Linked DNA regions of Homo sapiens. The protein of the gene in region 2 interacts with the protein of the main gene of each other region in a pairwise test. Each region holds a gene or a part of one and is shown on either strand. Other genes may lie near its edges.

The links. Proteins that work in one complex are often made in the same cells at the same time.
Region 1: the proteins of ZSWIM8 (region 2) and PRMT2 interact in a two-hybrid assay, tested with the Homo sapiens proteins (one large-scale study listed by BioGRID and IntAct).

What each region holds. Positions count from the first base shown.
Region 1 is NC_000021.9:46,656,174-46,659,673, reverse strand, and holds part of PRMT2 (protein arginine N-methyltransferase 2), read right to left. Parts: intron 930-3,500; coding exon 754-929; coding exon of another isoform or gene 750-753; exon of another isoform or gene 1-749. UniProt on the Homo sapiens protein: Arginine methyltransferase that methylates the guanidino nitrogens of arginyl residues in proteins such as STAT3, FBL, histone H4. Acts as a coactivator (with NCOA2) of the androgen receptor (AR)-mediated transactivation.
Region 2 is NC_000010.11:73,788,606-73,792,105, reverse strand, and holds part of ZSWIM8 (zinc finger SWIM domain-containing protein 8), read right to left. Parts: intron 3,437-3,500; coding exon 3,283-3,436; intron 3,011-3,282; coding exon 2,916-3,010; intron 2,740-2,915; coding exon 2,567-2,739; intron 2,390-2,566; coding exon 2,282-2,389; intron 2,151-2,281; coding exon 2,069-2,150; intron 1,935-2,068; coding exon 1,814-1,934; intron 1,132-1,813; coding exon 930-1,131; intron 783-929; coding exon 607-782; intron 248-606; coding exon 1-247. UniProt on the Homo sapiens protein: Substrate recognition component of a SCF-like E3 ubiquitin-protein ligase complex that promotes target-directed microRNA degradation (TDMD), a process that mediates degradation of microRNAs (miRNAs).

The DNA.
Region 1 (3,500 bases), on a different chromosome or scaffold from region 2:
CTCCCTGCCACTGCCAGGCAAGCCTGGGCTACTATTTTAATTTACTCTTTGCTTGTCTGGTAGGGAAAACAGCATGTATTTTAATTCGCATTTTAACTACTAACAACATTATAATTTTTCATATATTTATTGGTAATTTTATTTATTTTTTGCGGTTTGCCTGTTCACATGATTGGGCTGCAATTCCATCTGGCTAGTCATCTCTTTCTAATTGATTCCAAGACCTGACAGCACGTGATTTCTCTAATTACTTGTTTGCTTTTACAATCGTGTTTTTGCTGATTTCTGCCACATAGACTGCCAGATTCTATCTAGCCCAGGGTCCATTCCATCCATTGTTGCTGCTCATTTCTCCACCTAAGATGGTGCACACAGGCCCCCATGGATGTCTGTCGCTGACGCTGATTCCATGCAGAATTAAGTTTTCACGTATGGCGTGAGAGAACAAGGGCTAATCAACTGCTCCAGAATAATTTGCTGACTTGGCCCTCACTCCCTCCTAATCGTAATGCCACCTTTTTCACATACGAAAATTTTTGTTCCTTGCATTCTACCCTGCTCTGCCCATCTGTCTTGTTATAGCACCATACTGCTTTAATTACTCCAATGCTACAACAGATTGTCCTATCTGGGTGCACAGGTACCCTCATTTATCCAACCGTCGTATGGGATCTCCCAGGGCCTTGGCCCACCTGCAGACTGTGGACCAGGAGGCCCCACAAGACGGTGCCAGTCCCAGCTGTGGACACTTACTTCAGAGCGCTGAGGTTGAACTCGTACGCGTTGTCCCAGAAGAGCACCTTGCTACGATAATCCTTATCAGCACTGCAGGGCACAAGGTGCAACGCAGCCATGGTGGGCCAAATGACCCCGTCCTCCTTCAGCCAGGCATCCCGGGCATACAGGATGGACTCGATCATGAACTCAAACTGCATAGGAGTGAAAGACACACAGGAGACACATCACAGGCCCCGCGGCTGCACAGGCCTCTCACCACCACATTCGTAACACTAGTCTGACAGTTCTACAGTTTTAGCCTCAAGAATATTCCTGCCTAGGCCAGTGTACCATGCAAGAGAACATCTCGAGGGTTTATTTTATGCCCACACGTCACTGATGCATCTCACAGCCTGGGTTTAAGTCACATAATTTCCCATTAGAACTATGAACTGGAGCAGAGCTAAAAGCAAGGACAAATCTTCACTCTTGTCCCATCTCAGTCACGGAAGAGCTCGTAGCTACCAGATTTTGAAAGAGCCCTGAAGTGTTGCCGGGTCCCAACTGTTACATAAAATATATTTGGTCCGTAGCATTCTCAGAATTTTCACACCCTTTAAGTGGACTGAAATCACTGCTTAAGAAACCGAAAGCCACGCAGGCATGCCCTGGCCATTCACGGGTCCTTTGGTCCACCTTGCATCCCTCAGAAGGTCCCAAGTCAAGGGAAGCACATCACATCTATGACTGAGGAAGTGGGGACCCAACGCCCTCAAAGGCCAGGCTTTCTGTCTGAACCAGAACTTGCTTCAAACACAGAAAGGAGTAGAGGGAGCACCAGCGAGGTGGGGCCAAGGCCTGTGGCCCCTGCAAACCACCCAGGGAGCCTGCACTTCATCCTGTAGTTGATGAGAAACAACAGAAGTGTTTTGCTTCCTTAAATAATCTCAAGCTGCTTTTATTACAGAAGTAATACATGTTTTGTACGGAAAATGTAGAAAACTTAGAAAAGCTCAAACAAACATAAAAATCACATATTAACCCAGTACCTAGAAGGAACCACTGTTATCACTCTGCAGTTTACCTTCAAGTATTTTTCTACACACGCACACAAAAAATATATACATCTTATTTTTCAATCTTATTTTTTCAGTTATGTAGTGAAACAGCTTTTCTGGCGTACAGCCTACGAACTTGAGCGCTTGTGTGGATTTTGTCCTCACAACCACAGCCAGCATACACACAGCTCTGCCACCCAAAACACTCTTCACCCTTTTCTCTGGTGGTCATGCCCTCCCCGACCCCAGCCTCTCCAGCCACCGATCTGGTCTCCATCCCCATGGTCTTGTGTCTTTTTGAGAATATCATACAAATGGAACCAAACAGTACATAACCTTTCAAGACAAGTTTCTTTCACTCACTGTACCGTTTCTGGGGTTCCTCCAAATTACCTGTTTCAATAACTGGCTCCTCTTCACTGCTCAGTGGTATTCCACTGTGTGGACGCACCAGTTTATCCTTAAGGATTATCCAGATGAAGGACACTTGGGTTGTTTCCAGGTTTTGTTTTTTTTTTTTTTGCAATTATAAAGAGAGCTAGTATAATCATTCACATACAGGTTTTTGTGTGAACACAGCTTGCATATCTCTGGGTTGAACACACAGGAGAGGGACTCCTGGGCATAAGGTGAGTGCACATACAAGTCTATAAGAAAGCACCCACCTGTTTCCACAGTGGCATGTTCCCTCCAGCAATGCATGACTTTCAGCTGTTCCTCATCCTCGATGACAGTTGGTATTACTATCAGATTTTTTTTTTATTGTAGTCATTTTTCAATGGGTGTAAGTGATATCTCACTGTGGCTTTAATGTGCATTTCCCTGATGGCTATGCTGAACATCTTTTCATGTGTGTATTTGATATCTGTATATCCACTTTGGTAAAGTGTCTGTTCAAGTATTTTGCCCATTTTCAATTGGCTTGTTTTCTTCCTGTTGAGTTTTGAGATTTCTCTGTATATTCAGAACACACACTGGATATGTTCTTTGCAATATTTTCTCCTAATCTTAGCTTGTCTTTTTTATTCTCTTAGCATCATCCTTTTGCAGAGCAGTCATTTTTAGTTTTGATGAAATTCAATTTATCAACATTTTCTGCTATGGATCACGCTTTTAGAGTAAAAAGTCTTTGCCCAAGTCCAGGTGATGAAGATTTTCTATGATTTTTTCAAGGAGGTTTATAGTTTTACATTTCACACACTTAGATCTATGATCAATTTTAAGTTCAGCTGTGTATGAGATGTGAGGTTGAGGTGTTGTTTTTTAGATATGGATGACAACTATTCCAGTAACATTTGCTGAAAAGACTGTCTTTTCTCCATTAAATTGATTTTTGTACCTTTGTTAAAAAAAACCCATTGACCATATTTGTAGAAATCTCTCGTCTCCATTCCATTGACTTACGTGTCTGTCCCTTCACCACATTGTCCTGATTACTGTAGCTTCAAAATCAAGTAGTATAGTTCCTCCAACTTTACCCTTCTTTTAAAAAATTCTATCAGCTACTCTAGTTCTCTTAGTCCATTTTTGTGTTGCCAAAAAGGAATATCTGAGGCTGGGTAATTTATAAAGAAATGAGGTTTATTTGGCTCATGGTTCTGCTGGTTGGGAAAGTTCAGGATTGGGCATCCAGTGAGGGCTTCAGGCTATTTCCCCTCACGGTGGAAAGCAAAGGGGAGCTGGCACGTGCAGAGACCACAGGGTGGGAGCAGAGGCAAGTGGGCG
Region 2 (3,500 bases):
CCCAGAGCGGGAGGCACCTGGCCGAGAGGGCAGGGCCCGGGCCCAGCACAGTGCCAGCTTCCTGTCAGTGCCGCTGTAGGTGACACCAGGAAGTGGGTAGGCCTCTTCCCAGTTGAAGTAGCAGGCCTCCACCGCTGGCCGGAAGCCGGGGAAGAGCCGCTCCAGCGTCTTCTTGTGTTGGCCCCGCTTGACGTTCTCAATCACCTTCAGTTGCCACTGCCGCAGCTGCGTACACAGTTCCCGGCGCCTGTGGGAACAAGGGGCAGGAGGCTGCTGAGGGGCTACTGGGAAAGGATGGGCATGGAGTAGGTGTACACCCCAAAGAGAGGCATGGGGAAAGGATACAGGAAAGTACTTCTTGACCCAGCCCCATAAGCATCACTGAAACACTGGAGAATTTTGAAAAGTGGGTGTTATTTAGGGGAAGGAAGGATGAAAGCCTCTCAGAAAAAGGACTCGTAAATCACTGCTAACACCAGTGCTCAGCACCTCCCGTTTCCCGAGGACTAAAATCATGGTATGTCTCTGCAAACAAGGAGATGAAGGCTCAGTCTGTCCTGAGCTGGCCCAGGCTCAGTTCTGTGGTGAGCCTCAGGGGAGACTCACCGCTGGGGGCTGAGTGCAGGGTCCAGCACGGCCAGCCTCCACAGTGTGACCATCTCGTCACACATGCTGGCACAGGCATGGGCTGCCACCTCTGACTGCCCGTTGCTACGGCCCGTGTGCCCACTGGCACTGCTGTGTGAGGCTGAGGTACGTACGCTATACCACCAACCTGTTATCTGGAGACAAAGAAGGCTGTGAGCTGCACCTGAGAGCTCAGAGAAAGGCAGAGTAGCCCTCCCAGAGTCCATTTCAGCAAGAGGAGGATGAGGCAGGGGGAGGGAAAGAATGAGCTACCACGGGGCTCCCCAACGCTGAGTGATTACCTGTTCATAGGTGAGGCACTGGTCAGTGAGGATTTCCAACAAGGGGGCAGCATTGCTGTCCCTCCGCTTGAACATCTCCCGCACAATGCTTAGCAGGTTCCAGACGCCCTCTGGCTCACGGCCCCTCAGAGGGCGCAGCAGACATGCCCATTCAGCAGCGGCTGGCGGCTCCGTGGAAGACAGATACATGGAGTTCACATCACTGTAAAAGCAGAGGAACAGAAAACCATGACAGTAAGACGGGGCTGAATGAAACCTAAAAGGGCTTCCGGCCCCAAAATACAGAAGATAGAGGGAAAAAGACATCTGTAACAAAATTTTTTTTTTTGAGACCAAGTCTTGCTCTGTCGCCCAGGCTTGAGTGCAATGGCGCGATCTCACCTCACTGCAACCTCCACCTCCCGGGTTCAAGCAATTCTCCTGCCTCAGCCTCCCAAGTAGCTGAGATTACAGGCGCCCGCCACCACGCCTGGCTAATTTTTGTTTTTTTAGTAGAGATGGAGATTCGCCATGTTGGCCAGGCTGGTCTCGAACTCCTGATCTCAGGTGATCTGCCCACGTCAGCCTCCCAAAATGCTGGGATTATAGGTATGAGCCACCGCCCCCAGCCACAAAAACTCTTTAAAAAATCTTTCTCTGTTTCCATTTCCTGATCTATCAAAAGAAGAAAAGGAACTCTTGCTAGGTAAGAGCAGACCACTCTGTGACTGTACAAGGTCATCATCTTCCATCAATTCGTTAGTGACAACTGTGTGCCAGGCACTGTGCCAGTTCAGGGAATAAAAGGTAGGGGTCACAGGCATGAATAGAAGAAAGGATCTGTCATCAGCCTGAGGGACGCTCCCCCTCCACCACAGACACAGGTATGCAGAGATCCGATTTACCTGAAGACCACAGGGGAGGGGCCACAGAACTTGTGCAGTGTCTTTTTGATGTTGTCAGTGAGTGTCGATTCATCCAGATACCAAGTACTCTGGTCCGATGCTGAGGGCCCTGCTGTGGGGTCTGAGGATGACAGGCAGTCAGTCATCTAGAGATAGGGGCCTGGATTTGCCTGACAACAGCAAGCCTTGAGTAAATGGCGCTCTGTACTACAAGCTGGCTTTCTTCCTACTGCCAATCTTTCTCACCACACTCACCCGGAGCTCCACACACTGTATTGATGGCTGTTGACTGGGAAGACAGGAGTTCGTCCAGGAGACGCTGAGCTGTGGGGAGGATCTGAGGGAGAAAGAGACGGAGGCAGGCAGAACACGGCCTAGGTGAACCCATGGAGGCCTGGGCCTAACAGGAAGGCTGTTATGCGGCCTGGCCCGGAGCTAATTGCAGGAGGGGGTGCCGACCTCACCCACCTGCTGAGGGAGCTCACTGATGAGGTACTGAGCAAACTTTTGCAGCTGGTCCCTCTGTAGCCGGGACAGGGACTCTGAGACTGGGGCTCGCAGGCAGACTGCAGAAGCCTGAAGGGGACACAGAGAAAAATGGAACAATCTGAGAACAGGTTTGCTGGAGCTGGAGCTGGGGGACAGAGAGGCAGAGTAGGCGAGGCGAGGGGGCTCACATTGTAGCCAGGCATGCAGCAGAGAAGGGGGGGATGGAGTGTAGGATAGGGCCGGGATAAATTGGGAGGGCCTCACGTTGTGGATGCGGAAGAGACAGAGTGCCACGACGTGGGTGCACCATTTGGCCCCAGCCCCACAGGTACAGCTGCAGGAAGTGACCCGGCAGCGGTCAAACATCACAGCCACGTTGTAGGCCCCTTTAGGAGGGACCATCTGAGGTGGCACCACTGTAGCACTCAGGTGGAACCCTGGGGAGAAATGGGGGCATGGTCAGGGAGTGCTGTCAGGACCTGGGTCTCTGCCCTTGACCCTGGCCCTGCAGTTATTCAGACAACATGCTCCAGCTTCTTGCGGTGTGTTCTTACTTCATAAGCCAGGGGATGGGAGGAGCAGGATGTGCCACATGGCATGATGGCCCACTCACCTATCTGCAATGGGTCCTTCACAGCCCGCATGCGGAAGAGCTGATCCCCTCGCTGAAACTCATCCGCACTGCCATTGGCCAGGCACGAATACAGCCTGGGGGTGAAGAAGAGGACACAGCCACAACTCAGCAAATAACCTTTGGCAGACCCTGTCAGAGACCACAATGCCCTAGGCACTCTCTCCCTAGCCTCATTCCTTCCCCAGGGCGGGGGGTGGGGGGGAGGGAGTGGAATCCCAGGCAATCCCTCCCTTGTCTTCCTCTTACCACTGCCCCAAATACAATGTCTCCTTTGTTCTATGGGAAACCCAGCAGACAGTGTGGAGTATCAGGACCCCGCTCCCCACCATCAGTCCTTTGGCCTCACCGAATGTCCTCTTCATTCTCAGGGAAGCTCCAAAAAGCAATTCGGAGCTGTAGCTGCTCAGGCACTGGTGGGTAAACTTTCTCCACCACTTCAAATGGGATATGAAATGCCACCTGCTTTGCTGACAGCTCCACCAATGGGATCACCAGTCCATCTTTGCAAACAATGGTTGGGATCAGGGGAAAGAGAATAGGAAATGAAAAGGGCCATGGTCTCTT